Regions from separate parts of the Homo sapiens genome. Here all the other regions are linked to region 5. The links come from fine-mapping of genetic effects on gene expression. A gene starts in region 5. Each other region holds a variant in brackets. All regions are shown on one strand. Distances are from middle to middle.

Region 1 (5,000 bases), 22 kb before region 5:
AAGGAAATGAAGTCACATCATGACATTCTCTCTCCAAAACCCAGTTGTTCTCTGTGACGATGCCATAAAGTGACATCTAATGACTCAGGTGTGTGTACTGGGTGGCAGGGGCATGTCACACACAAGCATTCTCAACTGCAGCCTCAGTCTGGGAACGAGGTGGTGCGACCCTCATTTCCGAGGGGCAGCTGCTGTTTTAGTTCCCATCTTATCATTACTGGAATTTCAAGTGTAGTACCAGAAACCAAATTAAAATTCACAGGAACGCTGCACTCTGTACTGTTTTCAGATGTTCAGATATCTACAAACACTCGAGTAGAATCAAGATTAGATTTTCAAGTCATCAGCGTGAATTAAGCTTTGAATCGATATTCAACTCAGAACTGAGAGAGGATTTTACACACATAATAGAACATACTTAGCCAAAAAGTGCACATTCTGTCTGGCACTTGCGGGAAACAGCCAGGCACAGCCAGGGACTGCAGGGGTGTGAGGAGAAAGAAGGCCTGTCCTTCAGACATTGCAGGGCTGTCTACCTTTACTCTCCAGAGAGATTCTGCTTTAACCACCAAAAGCAATAAAGGATCCTGTAAAGGGCCATTTCTTTGTGGACTCTGAAACCAGCTTTAAACCAATTCCAAGAGATACTCCGAAAATGTTTAGGGGAGTCACTGCCTCTGTCTGCAGGTGGGCTCTCTGAAGCTGACATTCATTTAGAGAAAGAAAAATTCCAGGATGTTTATTCAACTCTGTAAGTCTCCTTCTTTAAATATCTTCAGAAATATCTTTCTAAATTCAGAGTTATCCAAAGCTTACAAGAGGAGGGAAGCAACAGACCAGCCCCCTTATGTTTCCTTATAAAACTCACCTGGGTGATGGAGCTGTTTCTAGTCCCAGTTAGCTATAAGGCAAAGGAGAGCAACTGCCATCAGCGTTTGCGGTAAATGCTATCAGAATCATGTTTGAAATCCTCAACTCTGACGGTTCTCAGAAATAAAATAAGCAAGTAACCAACAACACACACACACACCTCCCTCCAGGTCTATTTCTCACTTGTATCATTTTATTTTTTGGCAATCCCAATCAATTCCGCTGAGCCACTGGATGAAAACAAAAGCTATGAGAAATACGATGACAGCATTAGTACTCAAAGATTCCTCAATCTGTCTCCCTGGAACACATTTGTGTCAAAAGCCTGGGCAGTCACATGAATTCAAGACAGTGCTTCAAAAACAGCTGCTAGGATAAAATACTATCAATAATAAAGTTTATGAGATGAGGCCAGTGTTTTCATACTTACTCTTTCAACGTGCACTGCCCATTGCCTTTATGGAGCCATGGTCAAAAGAAACAGCTTTCATCAATTTCCAGCCTGACCATTTGGAAACTGCCAGTAAACCAAGGCTGTGAAGTTGGACAGAAGTCTGGAAACTAGTGTTCATGAGATTTTTTCCCTCATTCACTATTATCTGTCCCTTATAATAAAAATACAAGTCTAAAGACATTAAGATTAATGTGTTATGCCTTTTTACTCATTTCTCATTCAACATCAGAAAAACTAATTATCCATGTCACCAGAGCTGTCCCCGACACACATATTAACATATTTACTAGCAGCTGGGGACAAGCCAGGAGCAAACCCAGACTGAGCTGTGATCCCTATACTCAAGGACATCCCCAGCTGAGTCACGACAGAAGCCCAGCATCTTGCACCATGTGGGAGACCTGAGCAGGAGCCCTCTAAGACTCCCAGCCTGTGTGCCCGCTTCCTGGGACAGATGCACATTTCCTAAGGCACTGCTGTCCTCGCTGAAGAACACTGAGTGCTACGATGCTATTCCTCGTAGGGAATTGAAATGTTCCCTTCTAAGCCCCACTTCAATCTTGATTCTGCCCCTGGGACTATAAAGGAAATCTATGATCCCTCTCAATCATCACCCCACTTTTTGTCAGTGAACCTGTGCCAAACCTGGTCCTAAACCAGTTCTTTCCATGTGCCTTGTATGACATCCCCTGGGAAGCCCCTTGACCACCTGGCCCGCCTTGGTGTGCTCCTGAAATCGCTGCTCTGAATAGTGTGTGACAGTGTTCTGCCCCTGGTGTTCTGCCAGTGTTCTTCTGGGGAAAGACACGGGACACTGAATACTGCTACTACTCCTTAGTTTTTCTACACCAACCTTCATCCTAGTAAGTCTCTGCGACAGCCACAGCTCCATTTCTATAGCTTTAGATTACTTTCAGGGGATTAAAAGTATCTGACCTGTGCCATTTTATTCTGAAAAACAAAAATAATCCCAAAACTAAGGACAGCTAAAAGAAGACCAACCCTGAAATTACTTTAGTGCAAAGACACAAATCCCTATATTTTTTCTACTGACGAGGTAAACTACCCAATTTATTTCCCC[A/G]TAAGAAGAAAAATGCTTTAGAGACCTTTTAAAAGTAAAGATAAAACTCTATATACATTGGTTCACTTAAGACCATTCCTTAGAATTAAAATGCTTAATTTGAAGTTACTGTAAGTTGTTTCTAGCCAAAAAACCAGATCTGGGCAAGAGGGGAGGGAGATGAGAATTTAAACAAAAAATATAAGAATTTCTGATGACAAAATAAGTGTGGCTTCCTCTATGAAATTTAAAACCAGTAGCAGGAAACTGGTGATTAACATCTTTTCTCCTAAACTCACATTAAGGTCTTCAGTATTACTGTTTTCACCTCCATGATAAGAAAGACCAAGACACAGGTAAAAAATAAGAGCAAAAACAGAATCCTTAAAAAGCTACACCTTAAACAGTTTTTAAAATAAAAATGGAAAAAGCCTATAATGTATACGGTTAAAACTTACAATGGTGATATACAAAGTGAAGTACAATTTAACACAGATATGATTATTGATAACACACTGTAGGGCTAAGACATAATGAAAGCTTCTCACTTAAAAGTCACAAAAGGCAGCTGCTTCTTTTTATCCCATTTTGAATAAAAAGAAAAACTTTTCACCTTGATTTTGCTAACCACTTGAGTGGCCACTGAACTTCCCTATGAAGGGCAATTCTGAGGGAGGATCCAGCGGAGTCATCTGCAAGCCATAAAAATGTTGTATAAATAAATTGTGCCATGTCTTCCCAGACAGATAACTTGTTTTGTCACAGAAGGAAAAGAACAGGAGGTAGAGTCTTCATTAGCACAAGTGCAAGTTAAGGATGTAAAGAATTCTGTGCTGAAAGACTGTGTTCTGGTGCTTTTGAAGGTCTTCCATGTGTTTAGGTTCACACATTCCTCCTCCTCCCTGATGCCCCCACTTTCCAGGGCAGACACGGCTGCTGCCCAGTGAGTCTGTATCCTAGATGAGAAACACACTGTGTGATACAGATAGAATTGGGATTGTTCTGGTCGGGTGCAGTGGCTCACGCCTGTAATCCTAGCACTTTGGGAGGCTGAGGTGGGCACATCACTTGAGGTCAGGAGTTCAAGACCAGCCTGGCCAACATGGTGAAAACCTGTCTCTACTAAAAAAATACAAAAATTCACCAGGCATGGTGGCACCTGCTTGTAATCCCAGCTACTCAGGAGGCTGAGGCAGGAGAATCGCGTGAACCTGGGAGGCGGAGATTGCAGTGAGCTCAGATGGCACCATTGCACTCCAGCCTGGGTGACAAGAGCGAAACTCCGTCTCAAAAAAAAAAAAAAACTCACAAGAATTGGGATTATTATTATTATTATTTTTTATATACTTTAAGTTTTAGGGTACATGTGCACAATGTGCAGGTTAGTTACATAGGTATACATGTGCCATGCTGGTGTGCTGCACCCACTAACTCGTCATCTAGCATTAGGTATATCTCCCAATGCTCTCCCTCCCCCCTCCCCCCACCCCACAACAGTCCCCAGAGTGTGATATTCCCCTTCCTGTGTCCATGTGATCTCATTGTTCAATTCCCACCTATGAGTGAGAATATGCAGTGTTTGGTTTTTTGTTCTTGCAATAGTTTACTGAGAATGATGATTTCCAATTTCATCCATGTCCCTACAAAGGACATGAACTCATCATTTTTTATGGCTGCATAGTATTCCATGGTGTATATGTGCCACATTTTCTTAATCCAGTCTATCATTGTTGGACATTTGGGTTGGTTCCAAGTCTTTGCTATTGTGAATAATGCCGCAATAAACATACGTGTGGATTGTTCTAACTCAATGTAGGCCAGTTCCCCATAGGCACCAACTCCCTACACTGCTATGACCACTGCGGAAGGGCCATGGCCCTAACACTGAGATTTCCAGGCAGGCTAAGGCATTTGCCCCAGGGTTGTTAATAGGCCTATGGGAGGACCAAGGCTGGGCTGGGTCACCTGCTGGAACCTCCTACTCCACACCTCACACTAGAGGAGCAGAGGAACACAAAGATGAGTCAACACCTTGTACAGTGTATGCCAGGCTTTCTTTGCCGAGGACAGAGTTCTAAGCTTCAAATGAGCACCCTGGTGAAATCCAAGTGAAAAGAGAAGGAACTGGTGGCACTCGTATATTGCATTAAACGCTAATGAGAGTCTCTTTAAATCAACAAATATTGCACTCCTGCTATGTATCAAACTTTTTCTTAAGTTGTTGTTTTGACTAATTTAGTAGAATTTATGATCAAGTATCAGCAAAAATGAGGTGTAAACTCACATATATACTAACATTGTATCTATTCAGAATTCACTATAGACTACTTCAGGTTAATGCCTTTCTCAAGGGACCAAATAACAGACAAATCAACAAGAAAATACACTTCTAGTCTTTTCTCCACCACACATCCCACAGAAAAGTAACTCACTCAACAAATCAGGTTATCGAGCTTGGCTCACCTCAGACACCTTCGCAGATGCACGTGCCTAAGAGAAAATCAGATTCCATCCACTTAAGCTGCCTTCTTTGAAAAAAGTATCAAACCACTCCGTAAGTCTTCTATAAACTGCTAATAGTAAAATGTTTTAGGAACTGGAATGGGAAGCATGTTA
Region 2 (5,086 bases), 260 kb before region 5:
ATTCCCCCTCCTTAAATATGGGCTGCACACAGTGACTTCCTTTCAAAGTGTACAGTGTGGAAAGGGGGCAGGGGAGAAACTTCACAGTGGAGACGTACAACAAACACTGCCTCAGCCAGATGATCATGGTCAACATCACGAGTGACGTCATGTTGATAGGATGTGCTCCTGATAGAATGTGATGAAAGTAGCACTTTACTTCTGTGGTCTTCTCCCAATAATCATAGGAGAAAACACCAGGCAAATCCCAATGTTGGGACATTCTACGAAATACCTGACTAGTGTTCCTCAAAACTGTCAAGGTCATCAAAAACAAGGAAAGTCTAAGAAATTGTCACAGCCAAGAGAAGCCTAAGGAGATGGGACAACTCAGTGTAACATGATGTTCTATGGTGGAAGAAGGACAGCTGGGTCAACTAAGGATATCTGAATGAAGGGTGACTTTAGTTAATATGCATCAACATTGGCCATTAATTGTGACAAAGGTACCTCATTAATGTAAGATAGTAACAATGAGAGAAACTGGGTGTGATATCTAGGGAAACTCTCTGGACTATTCTCAACTTTTCTGGAAATTTAAAACTATTCTAAAATAAAAAGTTTATTTTTTTAAAAAGGAAGGCAATCCCCTTTCTCCTCCCTCTTTCTCCTTTCCCTCTCTTTCCTCATTTCTCCCTTTTCCTTCCTCCTCTTCCTCCTGCCCCCTCCTCTTTTCCTTTAACAATAACAATAATGTGTAGTCCATTCTCACACTGTGATAAAGAACTACCTGCAACTGGGTAATTTATGAAGGAAAGAGGTTTAATTGACTTGCAGTTCCACAGGCTTTACAGGATGCATGGCTGGGAGGTCTCAGGAAACTTGCAATCATGGCGGAAGACGAAGGGGAAGCTAACACATCTTCACGCCGGAGAGAGAGAGAGATAAGGGGGAAGTGCTACACACTTTCAAACAGCCAGATCTCGTGAACTCTATCAAGAGCACAGCAAGGCGGAAGTCCACACCCGTGATTCACTTACCTCCCACTAGGCCCCTCCTCCAACACTGGGAATTGTAATTCAACATGAGATTTGAGGGGGGACACAGAGCCAAACCACATCAAATGGCATCACACATGTGACCAGTACGTTGTCGTTTCCAGCTCTCTTCCCTTGCATTATTCTGCAGGAGCCCTTGCCACAGTGCAGTGCTGGATGTGGTATTCTTGAATTCACAGTTGGGCCAGGGAGGTGAAATGACCCACCTAGGAGGTAGCAGAGGTGCTAGCAGCACTCCCAAGACTCATAGTGAATTCTCCTGGGCCTGTCCGTCACCCTGTTATGCCACTTTTCAGTTTCCCTCTGATCACAAATGACTCAGCACACAGTGTAAGTGCTACAATTTTACTCCAGAATTTGACTTGTATTGTCCTACAGACTGCAGGTACCCTCTTGTTGCTCCTTTCCCTTGAAAAAAAATACATCATCTCAAAAGAACGCAACCAGGAGCTGGCAATGGCACTGGAATCCCTTCCTGGTCACAGAATTGATGCTCATCTGCCCTGTGCACAGCACTTTTACAAGAAATCTTATTTGGTCAACCCCCCAAATATCACAGAAGGACATTATTATTATCTCCAGTCTGCAGTTGAGAATGCTGAGGCTAGAGAGTGGTTACCACTAAAAGCAAACCTTTTCTCTCTTTCCCATTGCCTATCCACCCTGACTCTGGGCTCTGACCCATACCCACCTGCTCAAGGTCCCAGGTAGGAGTTGCCCATTCCTTTAAGTATGAGTTCATTCATACACATCACCATGTGAGGCTTGATGTGACCTCACTAACAAGCAGGTCTCATCTGCCCTGTGCATGTGAATGTGCCTTAGGAAGCTTATCAAATCCCAAAGGAGAAATTACATCCTCTAGGAAAAGTACAGTGAGGTGACTGTCCCGTTTCCTTTACTGGCTCTGGACCACAGCTGAGTTCCCACGCACGCACTGTGGCACACGAGAGTGTGGGCAGAGGCACTTCTGCTGAGTGGGATGAAACATCTTAAGTGCTCTGAGGGTTGAAACTTTGAAGAGGTTGAGATCTGTGAGAGCTGAAGAACCTTTGAATCTCCCTTCAGCTCTCCCTACCCCAACCACAGCCCTTCTCTTGATGTAAAACATGTGTTCAGATAGAAAACAAATGAGGCTTACTTCTATGCCAGTAGGACTGTTTGGCTTTAAGCTTCCCCAGTGGTTGAAAACAGCAATCTCCGAGATTTGCCCAAAACTTTAAATGGAAGTCACTCCCATGGGTCACATCCATGGATTTGTGAGATAGGGCAGGAGGCTGTGTCTCTGCTACCCAGCGGTGGGAGCAGGAGTCTGTGCAGCCTGGTTGTATTGGGGATGGGCCCCTCGTCCAGTTGCCTATGAGGATAACCTGCGGAGAAGATCTGATGGAGATACCTGGACTTATGCAGAGGCGTGTT[TG/G]GGTTAAATAGAAATGCCCAGGGTCCAATAGAGGGAACCTTCCAACAAGTGTATGAGTTGGCCTCTCACCCAACGCTGGCCACCCAGATGACAGCTTCTTGGACATGATGAATGGCCTCACTTCCACCAGAACATCTTCCTGCCAGGCCCTGCTGCTGCTTCCCCAGCTGTGTGGCCTTGGATGAGTAACATGGCCTCTTATTAAAGAAATGGATGAAATACTTTCTAAAGAATCTTCCAACTCTGAAGATCTGTGACATCTTGTCACTGAATTAATAGGAAATCAGCTCCTTATAGATTTGGTCTATGTTAGGAGACAACCTCTGTTGATGGGCTGACCGAATGTCTGAAGTGGGAAGGATTTGGGGACCAAAACAGGTAACAAGAGTAGACGAACACAAGAAATTCAGGTTGAATTAACCTTCAACAGATATTTATTGAGTAACTTCTACATGTAAGTCACCAAAATCTGGGAAGGGGAAATGGATAAAAGTACGATTCTCTCTCTGGAAAGCCTATAGTCTAATTAATTGATGTATTAAGTAATGCTGGGTGGAGGAACAATAACCCAGGACTTGTATAAACAATAGGAAACTCTGGGGGAAGAGCAAGGCTAGAAGAGACATTATCTGGGAGGCAATTCTAGAGCAGGTAGATTTCAGGAACAGGACAATCAAAGAAAAGGAGAGTGGCATTCACACATCAAGTCTAATAATATGGCCTTATTTTATGGTCCACCTGAGTACTGCAGAATTTAGCCCTAGGTACTACCAGGTCCAAAGCTGCTTCTTTAAGCTACACTTTAAGCTCCTGTCACTAGAAGGGGCTGTCAGAGTGCCAGGGATTTTGGTAGGTTCCGTGCAGACTTCCCTAGTCCTAGAGGACGTTGGAGTCACTGGGGTGTGAGGACATTGGAGAGACAGGAATAGAGTTCCACGCTGCGATGAGGAGATGGAGCCTGATGCAAAGCCACAGGGAGGCTGGCGTTGTTGGGGTGGGAGGAATTCCCACCCAGTGGGAGAGTTTTACATTGAGGACTACATACCTGGTCAGGGTATAAGGCAAAGTGGGCTCCCACTCCTGACATGTTCCTCTTTACCGATGTTCCTTGTGAGCTTATTCCCCACCTAGGACAGCTAACACTTTAAGCTCTTGACTGTCATTTATACTTTATTCATGTGAATGAGTTTTTAGTTTTCTCTTGAAAGCAAGTTGGGATACTAGGAAAGTTGACAAGAGTTTGAGTTTCTATGTTGGTTGGGAAAGAGTGATGTCTCCACATGTAATTTGTAGAGGGTCCCATCAGTTTCCAAAAGAGGAAGTGGGTGTTTGTCTTGCTTTTGAGACATTTTGGGAGACTTAGACACAATATAATTTCTATTGAGAACAAAGTAGGGTTAGGATTTGGAGAAGGAAGACAGATATTTCCTTCTCTCTGCTAAAGAGATGGTCTGGAGTAGAAAACTTGTGGACTGTGTTTACAATTGTGGAGTACTACTCTTGGTAAAAACAATAAAGCAGAATCGATGTCTGTAGAACAGAGCTGGAAGGGGCCTCATGGTTGGTTTTCAAGGTAAACTAACCACAGACATCAGTTTTCCACTCCTCAGCCTTTTTAGCATCTGGGTTCATCTTCCAGGAAGGCCATAACAAAGCTCCACAATCTGAGGATCTTAACAACTGAAATTGATTGCCTGGAAGTTCTGGAGGATGAAAGTTCAAGGTCAGCTTGGGCAGCGTAGGTTTCTTCCGGGTGCCATGAGGGAGAATCATTCGTGCTTCTGGTGTTTGCTGGCAGCCGCTGGTGTTCCTTGGCTGGCAGAAGCACCACCCCAACCTGTCTCTGCATCTTCACAGGGCATTCTCCCTGTCTGTGTGTGTGTCTGAATTTCCCCCTTTTATAAGGACACCAGTCATGTTGGATTAGGGGCCCACCCTACTCTAGTATAATCTCATCTTAACTAATTATACCGGCAATGGTACTAGTTCCAGATAAGGTCACATCCTGAGGAACTGAAGGTTCAGACTTAAACACATGAATGTGGGGGAGGAGACGCAACTCAGCCCATAACCACATTCTTTCTACACAGGGAGTTCAAGTTAGAGAGCCCATCAAATCATGCAGGGAAAGGAGATGAAATCCTCTGGGTCCGTCACTGTTTGAGGCAGCCCTAGACACATGCTGAGCTATTGTCCCCACTTTGCCAATGCAGACTAAGCTTGTGTCCATGGAAAAGCCCAGTGTGAACTAAGATCACTGGATGCCCACCTTGGTGCTGGGGGCCGGGGCCCACACAGAAGTCCCAGGCCCAACCTGAGGGGAGCAGGCTATACCAGGCCGAGGATGGCCCCCTTGATTTGGGTGCACACTCAAATGTACAAACTACTGCCTGCACCACAGAGACTGGCCCGGAGGTGTTATCTTCCCAGAGGGCTGGGCAAAGGGCTATCTTTGAACCAGCTGTTCCCACTCAGGCAAGAGTGGCTTTGCTGGGCCTCCACTTCCTCCACAGTAAAACGAGGGTGATGCTCTGCCCTGCCCGACCCATCTAGGGTCAGGTGAAGATCAAATGGGATAATAAGATAGAATGTCTTTTGAAAGACCCACACACGAAGGTGGCATGAGGGA
Region 3 (5,086 bases), 55 kb before region 5:
TGTGAAAGGCCATATATGACGGGGTCCCACAGAGGGATGCTATCAGGGGTCTGGAGGGAGATGGGAAGCTTCTCTCATTCCCACCCAACTTAGTACTTCTTTACCTTGTCCAGGCTTGTAGGGTAGCCACATTCTTCCAGAAGCAAGAGCTACATCATCCCACAGACATTCCCTGAGCACCTACTATGTGTCAGTGCTAGGGATGCGAGGATGGCATTCACACAGCCCTTGTTCTCATGGAGCACATAGTCCAGGCCCCCAGAGATTAGGACCTGAGTCCTTCCCTATCATTCCACAGCCACTCCCAGGTCTAGTAATCCTAGGTTCTAGCACACATTAAAGCTGGCGCTCCCAGAGTGTTCGCAAAGCCTGCTGCCCAGATAGTAAGACTGAAGGTGGGAATGAGTGGGTGACCAGGGAAGGTGCCACTGGAAAGTAACATTCAAGCAGCCCTGACTGCTGAAGAGGCCAGCCCTGTAGCTATAGAGAGAAGAGCGATTTAGAAAAAGCGGGCAGCTGCAGCCTTAGGCGGGAGTGAGCTTGGGTTGTTCTAAGCAACGGCATAGGGCATACTCCATAAAAGAGCCCATAATATTGACATTTATTTCTCCAACGTGTCCTTTTTTTATGACTCATGAAGACTTCTGTTTTATACCAGCCACCAAGTTTAGAAGCAACTAAATTGTCCGAAATGCACATGCCACCCAGAGCAGCCAGTGACAGTGAGTTCATCAAGACATGATCAGTCATTTTCTTCAGGTGAACTTATTTATCAGAATCCTGGCAGCGCTATGGCCCTGGACAGCAGCTTTTAAAAAGGAGAGGAGAAATAGTGGCCCCAGGGCCCAAACAGGTGAGATGAGGAAGGAGGAGGGGGCTACCAGGAGGCAAAAAGGGGCGTCTAAAAGGGAGAGCCGTTTTGCCAAAGGGCTGGCTGGACCTGCTGTTTAAAAAAGTTCTGTCATTTGAATAGGCTCCATGTTCTCACTACTCTTTTGAAAGTGGCAAACAGGCCAGGCGCGGTGGTTCACATCTGTAATCCCAGCACTTTGGGAGGCCAAGGTGGGCAGATCATGAGGTCAGGAGTTCAAGCCTGACCAACATGATGAAACCCAGTCTCTACTAAAAATACAAAAATTAGTCAGGTGTGCTGGCGCACGCCTGTAATCCTAGCTACTCAGGAGGCTGAGGCAGGAGAATTGCTTGAACCTGAGAAGTGGAGATTGCAGTGAGCCGAGATCGCACCACTGCACTCCAGCCTGGGTGACAGAGCAAGACTCTGTCTCAAAAAAAAAAGAAAAAAGAAAAAAAAGAAAGTGCAAACAGTACATACATATGATGAAGGTCAAGAGGCCAAGAAAAGACTGGGCTTTCATAGAAGATGATTTACCTGAGTCCTCGTCAGACATTTAGTTGCCACACACCCATCCAACAACGGTGTGTTGAGTGCCTACTAGGTGCCAGGTACGGCGAGATCCCGCTGAGTCAGAGGCACACTGGCTAATGCTAGCAGCCCCACAGACAGAGAGACACAATTTAAAATGTTATTAGGATCTTCCAGCAGGGATGAGAGCATTTACCTATAAGCCATCAGAAGGCCATCCCCAGAGCTTGGTGACTGGACCCGGAATCAGGCTGGGAGTTACCTGGGAGCAGCCACTGTTCTGAGCCTTGCTGGCTGGGGCAGGGACAGAGAGTCTGGTCCTGGGAGGGACTTGGAGCGGGCAAGGGTGTGCCTGTGGAGGCTCCCACGGAGGCCATTTCTGCATAGTATTGAGCAATCAGAAGTAGAAGTTCCCCTGGAAGAGCTTGGTGTCTAACCGGGTGCAATGTGCATTGTGGTCTGTTCCCCAACACAAATCATCATTTTCCCTTCTAAGTGCTCACACCTGAATGTGCTCTCTCAGAGCCTGCCCCTGTGTGTCCTCCTGTCCTTGTTTTTCAGGGGACGATGATGACACTTTTCCCATGATTATGAGATTCCCCTCACACTCTACACTCTCCTGAGCTATGGAAGGCCAGGCTCAAGCACAGCATGATCCACCCACGTTCACTGCCTGTGCCACACACAGATTCGGTTCTACCTCTAGCCCTTCTGGGGTCCACACTATGGCTCCGCCTCCCGTCTCTGAGCTCGCTGAGTTCTTTGGGTTTGTCAGTTGAAGGCTCTGACTCACCTGATGATGACTGGGCTCTCCCCAGGCTCACAACCCGGGGCCACCTCACCTCCACCCTGCCGTGGCCTTGGCCTTGGCCTTGGGCCCTACAGC[A/C]CACTCTGTCCTCCACTCACCTTGAATTTGGCTGGAGGCATGGATGCCTGTGCCAGGGCAAACTGGCAAAGGGAAACAGAAAAGAGAATTGATCATTTTGCAACTACAACAGAAATTTAAACAGACAGAAAGCACCTTGCTGATTGCTGTCCTTCAGAGCATTGTCCCTGGGGAGCATTGCTGGACCCGATGCTGCTGTGGCTGCCCCACCACTGCTGGAGTCATCCCTGGCAGTTTTGAGCAAGCTGTCATTCAGCAGCTCCCAAGCCCAGCTGCACACTGGAGTCATTTAGGGACCCTTTAAAAATATGACACTGCACCCCCACCACAGACTCAGAGAGGTGGGCCTCTGGTATGGGTATTTTGTAAAAGCCCCTGGGGGAGTCTAACATCCTCTAGGCTTGAGGACCTCCCTCCTGTGCCCTGTCTGGCCTGTGTTCATAGATGCTCCATAGGCGCCACTGGGCCATCATCCACCTCTCATGAACAGATGCTCAAGGCCCTGTTTCCCCGGCTTATGAGAGTGCTTCATTAAAGCAAATGTCTAAATATTCATGCTCCAGGCTTTCTCTAAGCAGCCAGTGGGTACAGTCCACCTTCCTGGAGTTTCTTTCCAGAAACTCAACTTAAAAAAAAGCCCTTTAAAATGAATTGACAGCCCTTTGTTTCTAGATAACCCCTGAGTTGAGTTCGTGGTCCAGCAAAACAGAACTCTCCATTCACTCTTCCTCCACCCCAGCCCCTCCCCAACCGATCTCACTTCCCACTCCTGCTTCTATTCTCAGGAAGCGCCATCCCCGCTAATTGCTCTGACCCAAATCATCCTTTAGAATCCTTGATTCCTTCTGTTCCCTCACCTTCCACATCAGGAAGTCCTCCCTCCTCTTCCTCCAAAGCCTGTCTGCCCTCTGTCCACATCCCAGGTCTCCCGGGGTGGACTCCTGACTTCTACTCCTGACCAAAATCCAGGCACAGCCACAATCCAGGCACAGCCACAATCCAGGCACAGCTCTTAATTTTTTAACTTTTTATTTGAAATAATTTCAGACACACAAAAAGTTTGCAAAATAGTAGAGACACTTTTCTTATAGCCTTTACCCAGAGTACCCAGATGTTACCATTTTGCCACATTTTGCTTTATCCTTCTCCCTTCCAACTGCCACCATTCCATCCTGCCCCACATGCATGTAAGCACATCACATTTTTCTCCTGAACATTGAGAGTAAATTACCTGTTGCCCCTTGCCCCTAAATACTTCAGTGTGTATCTCCTAAAAATGAGGACATCCTCTTACCTAACCAGAGTTCAGCGATCAAAATCAGGAAATTAACATGGATGCAATATTAACATCTACATATTTTCTTCAGATTTGACCACCTGCCCCAATCATGTCTTTTATAGCAATGGAAAATTCCAGATAGTATATTGCATTCAGTCACCATGTCCCCTTGGTCTCCTGTAATCTGGAGTTTCTATCAGATTATGTTACTCCTGTGACAAGAGCCCTCCACTGTCCTGGGAATGTAGGGCCAGCCCTGTCTCGGGCATGCCCCCTCACCCTGCAGCCTGGCCTAATTCTCAAGCCCATCTCCCCCATCCATGGCTCCCTCCCTCGCATGTCCCCGATGCAGCCCCTTCCTCCCCATTTGCTGTGCTGGGCTTCACATCTCTAGTGGCTCTGTCTGGACCGCTCTTCTCTGGTTGCTCCTGATCACCCTGAGGTCTCAGAGGAGAGGCCTTCCTTTCTCTGGTCCCACCACCGCACCTGGTCCACTACACTCTGCCTTGTTTATTTCCTGCACCTTTCACTGTCTTGGTCACTGGTTCCCCTACGTGTTATCTTATGCCTCCCACCTCCACTGAACATCAGCTCCATGAGCGCAGGGGGTTGTCCTTGCTAATTCCCAAGCATGTAGAATGAATTGTGCCTGATACATAATAGAGGCTCAACGAACCTTTGCTGAGCGAGTAAATACATGAATGAATGCAAGTCTTTTAGACTATTTGGGTTAGAGACAATAGAATCCTTTCACCAACACTTAAATGAGAAAGAGATTCTATAGGCACTGATTGAAGACAAAATGCAATTTTTTTTCCCCTCAGAAAGCCTTTCAAAGTGTCATCCAATGCCTGAGGAAGCTTTGACTCACCACTTTCCCCTTTCAAGGGTCCAGAATTCAAAGTAATAGAATTGATTTACTTTTTAAGAAAATATACCAGATCTTCTACAGTCAAGGATTTTTGTAGCAGGCGTCTTGGCAGAAATAAGTGACACATATTGGCCTGAAGGTCATGGTCGAGTAACACTGGGAAGAGTTTCTGACTGAGTTAGAGACTCATCGGAACCTACTCCATGAGCGGAGATAGCCCCCTTTCCTGTTAGAAGGGCCTTGAGGGACCTCTGAGCACCCTTGGGGGACCTACCCAGGATGAGGTTAGAGGCCTGGATCCCCAGTCTGTCCCCGAAGGGGTTCCAGGCTCAGGCCCCCAGAGCAAGGGTGAGCCAGGAGGTCAGGGGCGAGCCTGGGCAGGCAGCACCGAGGTGCTCTCACTTAAAATTGGGAAGGTTCTGCATCTTCACTGGGGAGGCAAATCAATCCTTGGCTGTAGAAATGTGTAAAGTTGGCTGTGCAAGCTGTGTGCTTCCCTGTGTGTACTTGTACCTCAATACTTTTTTTATAAAGGAAAAAAGAAAATCGGAGGAGCTCCAGCTCTTCAAAAGCAAACAGCAGCTGCTGGGGATGATGGCCTGCCTGAGTCCCTGTGGAGTCCAGTCCTGCCTGCTCTCTATAGGTTTTGCTGCAAAGTGGGGTCCA
Region 4 (5,086 bases), 290 kb before region 5:
GATTGTAGACCTAGCTAGTAGGTCTTGGGGGTCCTTCCCTCCTAACCCCTGGTATCTAGAACCTGGATCGTAAACCTAGCTAGTAGGTCTTGGTGGTTCCTCACATGGATAGAAGAGATGCCAATTTCCATTAACCATGCACACTGCTGCTTGGTGGGCAGGTGAGGAAGTGGTCTGAGTGTGGAGGAAGCCCAGGACAGGACCCTCTTTGCCTCCCCGTGGGATGTCCTGGCTGCCCTGGGAGGATATGTGTGGTGTTCTCTACACCCACCTGAACCTCTAGCTCCCCAGAGCCTCTGACTGCATGTTCTGAGGGCAGTGGCATCGGGAACCCATGGGCGCAGTGTGCAGAGACTGGCCGAGGAGAGCTGTAGGGGTTACCTATTAAGGAGGCAGGTCCCAGCAGGTACTAGGGACTGAAGAGGGTGGAGGGAGACCCGAGGGGGGAAGAGGCTGCCCTCGTCATTAGCCCAGATCCATCCCACCCACTTCTTCCCATCTCCCTGTACTTGCCCCATAGGGATTCCCAAAGAGAGGGAAGTAGAGGGGGAGAGGAGTACATGGGCACAGGAGAGCGAGTGAGCACCCCACCCCACAACAGTGTCCTGAGGAAGGCCCCTCTTTTGTCTCCTGCTTCACAAGCCTTGGGAACGGGGAACTCTGCAGGCTGAGCGGCATCCCTGCTGGGAAATGAGGGCCTGTCTTAGTTCCTCATTTAAGGCACCCACCCTCATTCCCAAGGCAGTTAAAAGCCCCAAGTTGCCCAACTCGGTCAGAGGAAGCCTGTCCCATCAGTCTCACACACCCAGAACTTGATTCTCTGGCCTCCGAGACTGGGCAGGGACCAGCTCTGTGTCCCCGAGCCCACATGTAGAGGAGGGAGCCGCGAAGCTGATAGCCCAGGAACTTCTATTCCCCACTTGTCATTGTCAAACTCTGATGTCTTCTGGGACTAAATTTGAAGGACAGTTTTTACTGTTGTAACCAAAAAAGCAAAAGGAAGCAAACAATTAACAGGCCCCCTTCTTTTCGGGACTTTTTTCTTTGTCAGTAGAAAGCCATCTCAGTAAACAAGAGCTGTTACGAAATGTACCTCACCCCACACTATGCCTGTAAAGCATCTCCCTTCCCCCCGCTGCACAACCCATTGTACAAGAAATATTGTGATAGATACCTTTGGGTTGAGGCTGGAACAAAATGAGCCATCAGGAAGCATTCCATTTTCAGCTGGACTTGTTTCTGCATCTTTTGGAGGATTTCTGCAAACCCACAGCCCAGTATGGCATTTCCCATACTCTGTGATAAGAACCTCCAGGATAACGTTGGTGGCTCAGGGATCATCTGAGCCTTGAGCAGCTTCCATTCTGATCTGGATGTCTCTGATGTGTGCTTGTTCAAGCAATCGATGAGCCAGTCGTGGGCCCCAGACTCATGGGAACTGGGGGAGTGCCCAGGTCAACCCTGCTTGCTTTTACAGCTTTCCTATAAAAGCTTCTCCACTCTTTGCCTGGGCAAGCCCATGCCCAGATCTCCAGCACACACTCCAGCTGCCAGAGGGGGTGGGGGGGCTCCCTCCTGCGTCTGGAACCTATTCAGCCAGCCTGAGATTCAGAAGGGCCTACCTGCTGGAGCTGAGGGTGGGTGAACCCACCCACTTGGGGCTAGCGAAAGATTGCATCTTGTCCCAAGGCTCTGCTGGACCTTGGAGGATTCCCACCATTGTCTTTTTGGGATTTGAGGGAGGTGTTTCAGACTGGGAGACTGGGAGAATGTTTCCCAGCAAAAGGCAGAGGTTGGGGTTCCTGGGATGTGGCTCCCCACAGACCAGGAGGCTGACACAGTTCCTCTCTCTGTCTTCCTGCTTTTCTCATGCAAACAGCACCCCTTTCCCATGGCTGCTCTAACATCCTTGGTAGCTTAACACAAAACACAAATGTATTCTCTCACAGTTCCCAAAGGCCAGAAGCCTGAAATCTGTTTCAATGGGCTAAAGTCAAGGTTTCGGCAGGGCTTTGGGGAGATCAGCTTCCTTGTCTGTTCCGGCTTTTAGACATGGCCAACGTTCCTTGGCTTGTGGACCCTTCCTCCACTTAAAGTCCATCACTCCAGTGTCTGCCCCATCGTCACATGGCTATCCCTTCTTTAACCTTCTTGCCTCCTTCATATAAGGACCCCAGTGGTTACGTTAAGGGCCCACTCAGATAATCCAGGACTACCTCTCTATCTCAAGATCTTCAACTTAATCACATCTGCAAAGTCCCTTTTGCCGTGTAAGGTAACATTCTCAGGTTCCAGGGATTTGTGGATGTCTTTGGGAGCCATTATTCAGACTCAGATAGTTATAGTTAAGACCTATGAGACAGTCTTCTACATCCCTGAGTGATACTTGAAGCAGCCTAGCAACAAAAAAAGCCACAAAACTTTGTCAGGAGAGCTGTTTTTGGGGCCACCCCACATTGACCCTTACCTCTGCAGCCCCTGGTTTCCTCTGGCCCCTGCACTTGTGTGATACCTTGAGAAGGGGTGGATCCACATGCCAGCCTACGCAGGAGCAAGAGGACCAGTGCTTCTTCTCCTTTCTTGGTACATGCCAGCACGGTCTGTGGCTGGGATGCTGCTCTCTGAGACTTGGGAGCTTACTTGTTCACCTCAGCAATGAACTCTGACCACATTTTGCCATTCCTATTCTCAGGCCCCTAGCAATCTCATTCCCAAACTCGATGACCCAGTCTTTTGCATGGCTCAGAGAACTGCCAGAACTGTTAGCACCTAGGCCCTCTGCTGGAGTTCACAGATGCAAATTCTGTTGCTTGCACTCCAAATCTGTGATGCAGGATTGTCTGCTATGTGGAATTAATTCAGAACTTGAGGAATCCTTGTAGTGCCACCTTACAAATGGGTTGGTGCCTTGGAAACCCAGTCCTGGCATCAAGGCCTTGGCATCTGTCAAGCAGAAGTGTGCCTGGGGTGTATTGGGGGAGGGGCAGTGTTGGAGC[C/T]GATTTCACCGATTTCTGTTCCTGGCTCTCTATTGTGCAACAACAGGCTCTTCTATTCCTTAAGACGGCAGCATTATTGCCAGGTCCTTCTATTTGCTCATAAAACTCCCATTTACACAGCAGTTTGCAGGACACATCAAATACAAAAATGGATGTGAGGTTTAGTACAGGGAGACCACAGCCATAATGAATCCTGGCAGGGTTTTTATTTTGGTTGCATCTCAGAAGCACTTTGCCAAGCAATGTATATGTGTTGAATGAATGAATGAATAAATGAATGAATGAATGCCGGTGGACTGACATGGCCGTATAGAACTGTAGTCACCCTTCAGAGAGAAGCCTCTGCAATGCACCTGAAAAGCAATGACCATCTACATGTTCTTCCTTTTCTTGTTACTATGTTTTACCCCACCAGGATGCCCACTGACCAGAAACTAAACAAAAAAACTCATGTTCCTGAATTCATCTTTTACTTGAGGGTAAAAGCTTGGGGTAGTGAAGTGAATGTTGGTGCCATATCATGTTCAAGCATTTTGGAATTATATAGCTCTAATTTAGACAACAGCAACAACAAAGAAAAGAGACTCCATCATCAGAATTGATAGGTTAGTAAATTTACAGATCACTCAAAGATGTTAAAACAAAAAAACAAAAAACTTTCTAAACTCTCGGTGTTCTTGGGAAGTAGCCTGCTGTCGTTGGGCTAGAGATACCAAGAAGAGCCAAGGCAGCAGATTGTGGTTGAAATTTAACACGGTGTGGCGGTGGTAGGCTGGCGGCACAGGGGCTGCCGTCAGAGATAACACACAGCCCGGAGAACCAGGGTGTAGATCAGTGCATCAGAGCCCTTTCCAACGGTCAGGAGAGGAGGCAGCTGCCCTGGGGGCAGGGAGGACCTCTGACCCACAAGTCCTGACCTACTGGCAGGAGAACCATTCCTGGTTTGCTTGCTGGGTCTGAGACATTTCCGGAGATGTGGGACTTTCAGTGTTAACACCCAAATAGCCCTGGGGAAACTAGGATGGTTGCTCACCCAAGCTCCAACTTGTCTATAGAATTATCTGGCTTTGAAAGAATGTCACGTGCTTTTATCTTGAATCTAAGGTCACTGGCATGCCCCTCTCATCCACTGGTTATTCTTGATGGTAAGGGGGCGGGGTGGGTAGGGTGAGGGGAGGGTGAAGGGGAGGTTCCTCCTGCCATTCCTTCCTGGAGAAGAGACCAGGGCCTTTCCAGGATTTTGGACTCTGACATGGAAGGAAAACACTTAAAGACCTTCAGGATTTCGTGAGAATAACAAGATTTTATTTTAACCATAAATTGTAATATTTGAGAAAATGCAGACATATTGTTTCTCAGAGCCCATACTAAGTCAGTGTGGAAAACAGCCTTTCTCTGGAGGCAAAATTGCACTGATTAACTTGAATTACAAAGGGAGCATTGCTTACCTTAAGCTAAGACAGCTCAATGAGACCTGCTGTAGCATTTTTATTACATGTGCAATTGTGCACATGTACCCTAGAACTTAAAAGTATTATAATAATAATAATAGGAACCTGAAAATCTAGACGTGGAGTGCTTGCGGTCTCTGGACACTCAGGTCTCTCCTCTTACCTCCTTTCACCTCCTCTCAGAGCCCATCGCTGACATTTAGATCCTCTAGAAACACAAGCGTAGCTCAGCTGCATGTCAGAAGTGCAAAAATATTTAACTTTAATTTTTTTATGTATATGTCTAAACTTGTCTTACACTTAAGGTCCCTGTATTAGTCTGTTTTCACACTGCTAATAAAGACATACCTGAGAATGGGTAATTTATAAAGGATAGGGGTTTATTGGACTCACAGTTCCACATGGCTGGGGAGGCCTCACAATCATGGCAGAAGACGAAGGAAGAGCAAAGGGACTTCTTACATGGCAGCAGGCAAGAGGCATGTACAGGGGAACTCCCCTTCATAAAACCATCAGATCTCATGAGACTTATTCACTACTACAAGAATGCCATGGTGAAAACCTGCCCCCAAGATTCAGTTACCTCCCACTGGGTCCCTCCTATGACACATGGGGATTATCACAATTCAAGGTGAGATT
Region 5 (5,073 bases):
GCGGGCGCAGATGCAGCGATTGCAGGCGGCTGGCCGCGTTCCCTGCTCCGGCCCCATTGTTTGCCGAAAATGCTGAGGGCAGCAAGTCTGGGGAAGGTCTGGCAGCGGCCGTCAGTCGTAGTAAGTGCGTCACAATAGAGTTTGTAACTCCAGCGCGGCTCGGCCCGGCTCTGGCGCTCTCTCCGCCCGTGCTCCCTCCCTCCCGCTCCCGTACCGCACGCCGCACCGAATCAGACAGAACTTCTCTGAGGTGCACACCGTGAGGTGCACATCTCTAAATGGGGAGGGGGCGGCGGAGGGCGACGAAGCGAACGCCTGCAAGGTCTACAACTAGGTCCGCAGGCTAGGCGACACCGGTGCGCGCCGCGCCGCCTTCATCCCACAGACCCTCCCCTCAGAAGGCAATCACACCGAAACTCACGTCCGCGCCTTCCCTTCAGAGCGCAGCGTCCGGGCCAGGGACCAAGCCCCGCGGCGTCCGGCCCGCGCCCTTCGCCGACCGGGCGCCCCCTGACCGTCACCACGAAAGCAGCGCAGGAGACAAAGCCCGGGACTCGGGTTCAGAGTCCCCGGCGCAGCGCAAAGCCCGCGCCTTCCCGCCAGCCCGCCGCCGCGCTCCGCCGGGCAGCCGAGGGCTCCGCACGCCGCGCCTCTGGCCCGCGCTGCCCCGGCCGCAGCCGCCGGGAACATCCTCCGCCTCCTCCCGCTCCTCCCCTCGCGCTCTGCGCCCGCCGCCGCCGGCACCGCCGACCTCCCCGCGCCGCTGGCGCCGGGTGCCCGCGTTCCCAATTGGTCCGCGCGCGGTCGCTCCGCGCCGCAGCCAATCGGCAGCCGCGGTGGGGGCGGCGCCTACGGGTCAGGCCGCCAAAGGCGAGGCGATTGTTGACAAACTCGCCTCCGAGCGCTGCTCTGGCCGTGGTCGTGGCGGCTGCCGCTTCGTCGGAGGATTTGAGGGCCGGCTGGCCCGGCCACCCTGCCCATCCCTGTGCTCCTTCCGGACACAAGCCTTAGCAGCTCCCGCCGTCCTGGACAGCCAGTCACCTGGAGACAAAGCAGGACTTGCGCCGCGCCCGGACCCGCAGGGCCATCCCCAGGCCCAGTCCTCGCCACTTGTCCTTGTTTTGGCCCGTCGGGGGCAGACCCTAACGGCCGTCACCGCCCTGGCTGTGGCAACTATTCTCCTCCAACAACTTCCTCTCTCTCCTGGTGCGCCGCAGACACGAGTCAAAGCCGAAGAGCCACCCCTGGCCGCGGACGCGCACGTCCGCGACCATCGAGTAAATTCACACCCTCCGCCCTGGCGTCCGTCGGGCCCTCCACCAGCAGCGCCAACCCTGGGGCAACAGGTCCCAGAGGGCACGGCGCCGCCAGCCTGCACCGCGAACCGGGTCGGGTGTGCTCGGGCATGCGTGAGCCGCTAAGATAGCCCGGCCCAGGGACCGAGCAGGTTCTGCCGGCCGCGACTAGTCCCCTGCGCGGTCCAGGTGGTCAGGGGAGGACCTAGATTTCTCGCTGCCAGGGAATCGTGCGGATGGCACAGGCCGCAGGACTCCTGCAGAGCAAGCAGGGGCCCCAGGTACGCTTGAGAAAGCGAACGCAGCAGTGGCCCCGAAACCTTGGCCTGAATGAGTAAAAGGAAAAGCCGTGTCTCGTCAGTTAAATCACCACCGCAGTTCCGCAAATCCTCCGCAACAGGCCCACGCGCCCCAAAAAACCAAGACACGAAACACCCTCACACTGCGCGGCCGCTACTCTGAGGGCGCCGGAGCCGGCGGCGAGACTTTCCAGCTGGGCGCACAGCCCGATACTACGAGCAGGTCCTCAGCTCCCGGGCCGGCGCCGAAAGGCACGCGCTGCCTCTCCTCCTGCCCGGACCTACGACCCTTCACCAGGCCCGCGCGCAGCATCCCGTCCCAAGCCGCACTTCGGCCAAGAGCCTGCAGGTTCCGCGTGAACGACTTTTCTTTAAAGAGAACCTGCCCGAGAGGGAACCCGATCCACACGGATCCCCACCTCCCGCCGGCGACAAGCGGCGCCGATGCAAGCGTCTCCGCTCGCACGTGCACGGGAAGCGGGCAGTAGGTGGTGCCGTTCGGGCTCCAGCGCTAGTCTTCCTTCGGTGCCAGGCCCGCGCCCCGGGATTTGGAGGTATTTACCTTGCGTTTCTCAGTCCGAGAGTCAGAGTCAGACATTTGGGGGAACAAGGGCCAAGAAAGGGCGCCGAGGCGGTGGCGGCGGGAACGCAGCGAACCGAATACCGCGATGATGCGATCGCAGTGTGGCAGGGTTCGCAGGGTGGCTGCAAGAATCAAGTGGTGGTAGTGGCGGCGGCGGCGGCGGCGGCGGCGGCGGCGGCGGCGGCGGCAGCGGCAGCGGCGCTGGACGCAGAGCTCCAACAAACTGCAGACCAGGCGGCTGCGCGGAGCGAAGTGAAACCTGCGCGGCCCTGCAGCCCAGCTCTGGCTGGCGGCCCCGCTCCTACGCCCAATCACTGCGGACCCCGCCCCCGCTAGGTCCCGCCCCGGCGCGCGGGCTGGCAAGCTCCGCCCCCCTCGGCGCCGCGGCCGCCGGCGCGTGCAGGCTCGGACAGGTAAAGGCGGGGGTTGCCCCGCTGGGTTGCCTCCCGCGCGCGCCGCCGTCCCTGGCGTGTTTACCGGAGTAACTCTGCCTGCTGGCGGCCATGTGCGCGCCCATCCCCCACCCCGAAGTGTACCCTAGCCTCCCGCTCACCTACCCCAACCCGGCGGCGGCCGCGGCGTGCGCGGCACAGAGGGGGCGCTCCGGTCACAGCCTCCGCTGGCCCGGCCGGCGGTGTGAAGCCTCGGGAGGCGCCCTGCGCTCTCACTGTGCCCTGAGTTTCTAAGCCGCTCTGGGGCAGGCGCGGGGACTGGGTTGGTCCTCGCGAAGGCGCGGGGCGAGGTCTTTGAGCTCTCCTCCCTCTGAGGGTCCCTGGCGCCGGGCGGGACGCGGATCAGCAGGCTGCGCATCTTCCTCGCCCGGGCCTCTCGCGGGACTCAGGCACCCTCCTCCTGCCACCCCGCAGGGGCTCTCCAGCTTTTCTTCCGCGCCCAGTCGCCCTAAGAGACAGAGGCCGTGGGGGCAGGACGCGCCCAGAAAACGGCCAGGCGCGGTCCCAGTGGGCGTCTTCGCCGCCTCCCGGGTGAGGGCGGGAGGCATGTGCAAAGCAGGTAAAATAGGGAAATGAAAAAAGCACTCAGAAAAAAAAATCCTTTTAGGAAAAAAAAAAACGAGGTGAATGGCGGCCTCCAAGTGAGAGAGAACGTTGCGCACTGCATTTGGCTAGGACCCCCAAGATTTGCTGGGCTCGCAGATAACCTCGTAGGAGCTCCCTCGACTGGCTGAGGCCAGTGAAGGCAGAACAGCTGAGTTCGGGCCGCGGTGCGGGAGCGCAAAATACCCCGTCCCTCCTCCCCTCCCGCCTCCCCACCCATCCCTTTCCTCCCTGGAGTCCGCAGCACCTCACTCTACCTCCCAGGAGACCAAACTCCATGCCGCCTCTCCAGTCCTCTGAGTCTGCACCCGGGTCTGCTCTCCCAACGCGTGGCTGGCGCCCCAACCCCGGCCCTCCTGTCTGCTCCTCCCGCGCCTCAGTTCCCCAGCCCCAGCTTCTAGACAACTGCAGCGGGGGTGTGGGAGGTGGATCGGGAAATGGAACATCCCGCAGGTGAGGTCAGGCTAGATGGATTAAGGAAACTCTGTAAAGGGACCACCCTACACACCACCGCAGCCGGCAGGGAGAAGGAAGGGGCCTTGCCGTAGAGGAGCAAGTGAGGAGGCGTTGTCCCGCCGTCCGGCCGCCTGGAGCAGTTTTTAAATTCATAAGCGCTTCTGTAACGTCAGTGGGACACAGCGCAGCCCCATGCCAAAGTCTCAGCGCATTTTCGGGTGAATTTTGAGCGAGGTGAAGGAGGCCTTGGGTTCCCGGAGTCGCTGGAGGACGCGCGTCGGGCCCCGCCCAGTTATTTCGCTGCAAGAGGGAAAAGGCACGAGCGTGGACACGGCTAAGTAGACTCGGAGGCCGGAGATCGGTCCTAACCGGGCCTCGAAGTTCCTACCGCGGACGAACTTTGCTCTTCGCGGCCGTCCCGCGTCGCACCCGGGGAAAAGCAACACAACTTGCTGCGCGGGCTGAGAGCCCGAAGCCCGCCGCACGCCGCAATGCTCCGCGCTCCCCGCGGGGTCGGGCGACTCAGACAGGGACCGGAAAAGAACCACGCAGAAGAAAGCCCTATTTCTTGTCGTCTGTTCCTGTGCAGCCTTGCAGCCTCGCCGCCCCCGCGTCGCTCGCTCTCGCGACCCTGTGAACACTTTGAAAAACAAGAGTCGGGGGAAGCAACGGGCTAAGCGCTGCTATTTGGGGCACTAAAAGGAAGCCGGCCAGAGGTGGCGGGTTCATGCGTCCCCCGAGACCCAGGCCGCGTCGGGGGCCAAGAGCCCTTACAGCCTTCTCCCGCGCCGTCGGGAGGTCCTCCCGGAACTGGGCCGGAGCGCAGAGAACGCAGTGTGAGAAGGGCCCATGGGTTTTAGGTCACCTCCTTCGCGCTGGACGCGGGCAGAGCGGTGTCCCTTTCTGTCTCTGCCAAGAGACGTGGAGGGAGGGAGAAGGGAGGATGGCTTGTGCTGAAAGAAACAAGAATGAAGTCGGGCAGCCGGGATCTGAGAAATGGGAAATCCATGGCCCTTGTTCGGGACCACAGGCTTTGCCGACGTGGTCTCTCCTAGTTCCGAAATTGCCCAGGCCCGCCTCCCCACCCTCTGCAAGCAGCGGGAACGACTTCCACATCGCTTAATTTCTTTATTAAACTTTTCACCTATTCTCTTCTAAAGGACAGACTACAGCGTCAGATGGTAAAAATGTTTTCCGCGCCTTGTCTTGCCGTACGGAAACCGCCGGCCTGGGAGGACAAGCCGAGTTCTTGTTTTGCCGAGAGCAAAACTCTAGGCTCCCACTTCCTTCTCCCAGTCCGTGCGTTTCCTTGCAGAGCCCCAGAGCGTCTGATTCACTGAAATAGCATCACTTGCTGAACCAAACCTTTTTTCCCGCTCGCGGAA
Region 6 (5,074 bases), 45 kb before region 5:
CAGTGCTATTTATAAGTGGGTACCTGATGAGTTCTGATACAGTAACTAGTGGTCACAGAATCTGGACATAAAACATAAGAGAGCTTCTATAGTCTGAAATTCCCAAATAAAAGTAGTCAAGTTACTTAACTGGGAGCTTGAGGATGCTTCTTACACACAATGCTGTTTAGAGTAGACCCCAACTGATTTAGCGTCATCTGTAGACACGTTTCCCCCACCCCACGTGTACGTGAGTGGACACACACAGGCACCAGGCTAAATCAGCAGGGATGGCAGAACCACCTGCATGGAACCACCATGAAGTCTCCTTAAAGCTCCCATAAGCTTTCACATCTTGACACCCAGTCCAGTGGGGCCCCAACCTCCCCTGAAGGAGATGGAGTATCAGAAGGAGGGCATCGACCTGAAGAAGCAGGCTGACCAAATGCAGTGACCGTATGGGTGGGGCGTGGGGAGGGCTGTACAGTTAATTAGCTCCTGAAGACAAGTTAGTCCAACCTCAAAGCACAGGAAGTTGCACAGCAGGTGGGGGAAAACCCAGCTACTCACAGTTGTCCACAAGGGGTTAGTGGCCTGAGGTGGTCCTTAGGCAGGAGCCACCTGTCCCACCCATTCACTTGTCCTGCCTGGCCCTAGCCCTGAACAACTGCAATGCAGCACCTCTGGAAGTGGCACATTTTATTTCTTTTCTAAACGCTGAGTTGTCAGGGATAAATTTTCAATAGAAAAATCTTTCCCACCTGCTGATAATACTTTGGTTTTTTTGTTTTCCTAAAGATAAAGCCTGGAGTCAGCAAAATTTGCTTGCATGATAAGCTAGTTGCTTTGGAACAAACAGAAGGTTGCTGGGTATTTCTTGGAGTAGAATTTTGTAGCCTGCCAGACTGAGTTTCTCACTGGCATCAAACACACACTTCATCATAAGGGCGGCAAAGCCCAAGAATTGAAACCCACTTGACTGGAAATACCAGGACCCGAAGGTGGAGAGCCACCCTGGAGGACCACGTGGTCTGCAATGAGCTCTCCAGTCACCCCCGACAACTCTCAGGAGTTAACTTCATGGGACGGCAGGGGAGTGGGAGACAGGGATGTTAATACTTTTCAGAAATTAAGACATTAAATAAGCAGAAAATAAATATACAATATTTCTACAAGTTACAGCATTATGAAACAGTAGGACACATCACACAGAAAAAGAATCTACAATATTTACAATCCTTGATTTTGAAAAAGTTGAGAAAAACAGTGATTTTTTTACTTATTTATGCTGTACAAAATTTTACAAGGTAAAGGAAACACAATTGCACACAGACATTTGGCTCAGTTGATAAGTAATATGACCTACGAATCTAATAAATACTCACAATATATACATTAAGAAGGGGAAACGGCAGACAATTGTATTCCACTATATTTTTTTAATCAGAAGGAATTTTAAACTTGATTTCTCCGCAACCCCCACCCCCAAAATTCTTGATCAACTAACCAGTTGGGAAGGGCATCTGAAGAATCACTCATGAAACTATTTTGTGTGTGTTTATTGCGTTTCTGTGTTAAGTCACAGGACACTTTTTACAAACCTCACATAGGGAGAGGTTGTCAAGGCACAAAACCTGCAGTAAGTTTCCAAAAAGGGGATTTAATTATTTTTTCTACAAAAATGTTTTTTAAAAAAGGTAAAAACGTATACCCACGGGAGGCATACTTTCTGCACAGAGGCATCTTGATAACCAGATACATACAGTACAGAGACATCCAGTCATCGCTTTAAGTTCTGGTGCCAACAGCCTGGTCTTTAATACTCCTACAATTCATAGAATCTCTAATTTCCTCAGGAACTGTTTCCACAGCCAGCCTGGAGGCCGCCAGGCCAGAGGGAAATGTGCTCATGTGGTGCACACAGCCCCTGGGCAGCACAGGGCAGGGCCTCCCGTGCCTGGCCCAGGGCTGCACCCAGTGTGTGCTCCCAGGGGCTGCAGGGCTGAGGAAACAGAGTAAAGTGCTCTAGTCAGGAGACTGGCACGTGAGTACAGGGATCCTGGGAGGGGGTGCCCAGATCCAAATACATCTTTGGTGTATGTGTGTGTCCAGCAGGCCCACGGCTGCAATCCTACCACTGCTTGTAACCGTGGGCTTTGTATGACCCTACCAATGGGCTCGAGACACATCAGGGAACAAGATGAGCTCCAACACAGCTTTAAAAATAAGTCAAAGTCCCAAGGAGATTCTTGGGGAAAGGAAATTTTTTAAAGTAAGAGTATTTGGATTGAAATCATCTCTACCTAAAGGAAAAAGTGAATATGCAATATATACATATATATTTTTTAAATTATGAAGATAAAAATGTTTAGATTTTTCCACCTAATTTAAATAACGTGAACATGCTGGCTCTTCTATCGGGCAAAACACTAGTTGGTGGCACTGCTTACTCATTTGAAAATTTAGTTATTTCTTTTAAAAGTTGTTTAACGATGGAGTTTTCAAAAATTTTAAGAGTTACAGAGTTCACAGAATTGTCTTCCCTCCTCACTTTCACTGCTCCCTAACCTGACTCTTTCTTGGGTCTCCCTGGGCATCTGCTGCCTCTGAAATGACTGACCAGTGTGTGGCTTCCTTCCACTGCACTCATAAGGAGCAGGCACAGAGAAAGAGCACCCTCACTACATGGCTGGGGTCACAAGTGGCCTGACAATATCCAACTGTCCTGGAAAAATGAAAAAAAA[C/AC]AGACTTCTGCCCAGAATTATTCTTCTATGGTGCTGGTGGAAGTGGGATGAGGCCTGTTTCAAAGTGAATTTAAAGGAGTGAAGCTAGTGGACTGTGAGTTGGACTAAAATGCAGGAGGCCAAGCAAATGGCCATCAGAAGCCCTGCCCCAGGCCTGTGCCAATTCCCATGAGGGCGTGAGCTGGATGCTGCAGCTGGACTCTGCTGTAATGGACACGGTGGCCCTCTGGGACCTGATGCTGACAGTGCATCCTGTGACCATGGGAAAGCCTGCAACCAGAAAAGCCAGCAGCACAAAGGGGCGTAGCACTTAAGTCTGTTGTTATTACTGCTATTGCCTCTTCAGAATACTTCCCAATAACATGCTCGTCGAAATGGAATGAAAACCAACACCAAATGCTTCCCAGTTAATAACAGATCGCTCGAACTGTGCAAGATACAGGCAGATATTAACTCTTGTTCTGACTCAATTTCACTTTATCATGAAAATACACTGGACCAAATCTATGCATCTGAGTCCAGACTGGAGTTGCATCACAAAAAGTGATGAGGAAAGACGCAAAAATAGTCTGAAATTTTGCCACAGATGCAACTGAATTTATAAAGGTACGTAAATATTTACAAATGGGACTGGTATATCAATGCAGGCTGGCAACAGACCCTCTGCCCTTTTAATCAGTTCCATTTCAAAAGAACTCTTTTGGTATTAAAAATAATTTAAAAAGGTCAGAGAGGCAATAGTAGGGAAGGGAGGGAGTATATCACACGTCTCCCTGTTTAAAAATTCTGTAATCTCTAAAAATAAACTAAGGCAGCTTTTTAAGTTAGCTGGCTCAGTTTCCACTGCAGGGGTTACATAATCCTCTGAGAATAGGCCGTAGGTTCTTAAAATTTTAATACAAAAGTTATTCACAAATTGGTTAAAAAGTTTCCATTTCCTTTTTGAAAAACCTTATTGAAGGTGAGGGGGAAAACACACTGCATGTAAACACCATTCTTACACAAAATCCTGCTCCAAAAAACCATGGTTTGTATATTAAAAAGCAAAGAATGCTCCCTCCTTTACATTCACAACAAACTTCCATTAGAAATTCTGCTGTGTGGTGATGAACAGAAAGGTAGTCCCATCCAGCTCGGTGTCTTCTGAAACGTCACCTGCCCCCTCCACAAGAGAACCGCTGGCTGCATAATAATGGCACCAGGAGACCGCGGTGCTGGGTCTTGTTGGTTTGAACAAGCAAAATGTCTGCATGGTATCTCGGCTCCGCAAAGAACCTGTCAATGCATTCTCCACACCAGGCGGACAATGTAACGTAACAGTCGTAAGATAACCATTCGTGGGTGGTCTTCGGCTGCTTGGTAATTATTCAAAAATACCTGAAACAACAAAAGGAAAGCTTCTTAGTTTCTCCCTAATTTGGGGGTGGGGAGGGGTGGGAGCCCATATTTAAGTGAACAACCAATCCCATCTTAATCACCATGAAAGGCACCTCTTCAAGAGCACTGTGTCACAAAGCACGATGCCTCCCAGAGATTGTGAAGAAAACTTGTTTTCATTTCCCTGCAAAGGGGAAGACATCCCTACAAAAAGGGCAGGCATACCAATGATTTACTCCTTAAAATAGGAAAAAAAAAAAAAAAAAAAAAAGCACTCAAAAAAATGTTTGAAAAACTCAAAGAGGATGTAAAGCAACTATCTTACCACCCAAGTTAACTGACATTCAAATATGCTGCAGATTCCCCCAGGGGTGAATTTCTGGTAGCTGTAATTTATTTGAAAAACCAGTGATTTGGAGTAATCTGCCCTAAGAAGCTAAATAAAGTCTCGCAGTGATGCGCCATTGTGCCTCTGGCTGCTTGGCTATGATAAACACCGTGACCCAGAGGGGTGCCCATGGTCACAGACACAGGCAATGTCAACCCCCATCCTCCCACCTTCTCGGTATGGGAAGGAAAGAGCAATCCAGAACATAAAAAAGTCTCTGTGTCAGTGACCAGCATATGTTTGTTACAAACTGAGAAACTGTTCAAAAGGAAATCACCAGCTTATCCAATGCTTTCAGGGTCCTCAGGTCTTCCACAGCGCCCACTTTCAGGTTCTAATCCATTTTGTGAGTATGTGCAAGGTATAAATTCACAGTCACCAAAGGCAGCGGCAACACAACACCTCAACCTCGACGCCATGAGCTACAACCTGGTTCACTGTTCAAGTCTGAAATCTGCCCTGGACATTTCTTAATGACTAATCCACACGAGACCGGGCTACATGACTGTCTCTCCACAAACCCCCTTCTCATTGGGTGGGGGATACCTCCAACACACCGTCGCGGGAACCACCTGCCATGCATCAG

Which allele goes with the higher level. Positions count from the first base shown, and alleles are read on the strand shown. Sizes are in standard deviations (SD) of each study's normalised expression. Not every link is listed here.
In carriers of allele C in region 3, the expression in pancreas of the gene that starts at base 2,431 in region 5 tends to be lower than with A alone (small effect, 0.25 SD a copy in GTEx).

The links. PIP is the estimated chance that this variant, and not a neighbour inherited with it, causes the effect.
Region 1: its variant is the best candidate, but not a certain one, in a credible set for the expression of BCL2L11 in whole blood (TOPMed, PIP 0.50).
Region 2: its variant is the best candidate, but not a certain one, in a credible set for the expression of BCL2L11 in whole blood (TOPMed, PIP 0.76).
Region 3: its variant is the best candidate, but not a certain one, in a credible set for the expression of BCL2L11 in pancreas (GTEx, PIP 0.64).
Region 4: its variant is the best candidate, but not a certain one, in a credible set for the expression of BCL2L11 in whole blood (TOPMed, PIP 0.81).
Region 6: its variant is the best candidate, but not a certain one, in a credible set for the expression of BCL2L11 in whole blood (INTERVAL, PIP 0.51).

What each region holds. Positions count from the first base shown.
Region 1 is chr2:111,140,389-111,145,388 of GRCh38, reverse strand. All of the region lies in intron 2 of BCL2L11 (BCL2 like 11), which reads right to left. Among named protein-coding and RNA genes, the nearest start is that of BCL2L11, 22 kb to the right of the region's middle. The variant A/G (reference allele first, on the strand shown) is at 2,406.
Region 2 is chr2:111,377,948-111,383,033 of GRCh38, reverse strand. All of the region lies in intron 1 of MIR4435-2HG (MIR4435-2 host gene), which reads left to right. Among named protein-coding and RNA genes, the nearest start is that of MIR4435-2, 59 kb to the right of the region's middle. The variant TG/G (reference allele first, on the strand shown) is at 2,457.
Region 3 is chr2:111,173,715-111,178,800 of GRCh38, reverse strand. No RefSeq gene overlaps it. Among named protein-coding and RNA genes, the nearest start is that of BCL2L11, 55 kb to the right of the region's middle. The variant A/C (reference allele first, on the strand shown) is at 2,271.
Region 4 is chr2:111,406,721-111,411,806 of GRCh38, reverse strand. All of the region lies in intron 1 of MIR4435-2HG (MIR4435-2 host gene), which reads left to right. Among named protein-coding and RNA genes, the nearest start is that of SOCAR, 82 kb to the left of the region's middle. The variant C/T (reference allele first, on the strand shown) is at 2,997.
Region 5 is chr2:111,118,272-111,123,344 of GRCh38, reverse strand. BCL2L11 (BCL2 like 11) reads right to left here and starts at 2,431. Exons shown (of 4, transcript NM_138621.5): 1 at 2,157-2,431. It overlaps ACOXL (acyl-CoA oxidase like), which reads right to left. Exons shown (of 18, transcript NM_001142807.4): 18 at 4,797-5,073. RefSeq lists silencers at 347-906, 1,699-1,993, 2,327-2,866 and enhancers at 1,877-1,996, 3,147-3,226.
Region 6 is chr2:111,163,159-111,168,232 of GRCh38, reverse strand. BCL2L11 (BCL2 like 11) reads right to left here. Exons shown (of 4, transcript NM_138621.5): 4 at 1-4,100. The coding sequence ends at 4,002. Among named protein-coding and RNA genes, the nearest start is that of BCL2L11, 45 kb to the right of the region's middle. RefSeq lists enhancers at 562-621, 1,936-2,436. The variant C/AC (reference allele first, on the strand shown) is at 2,724.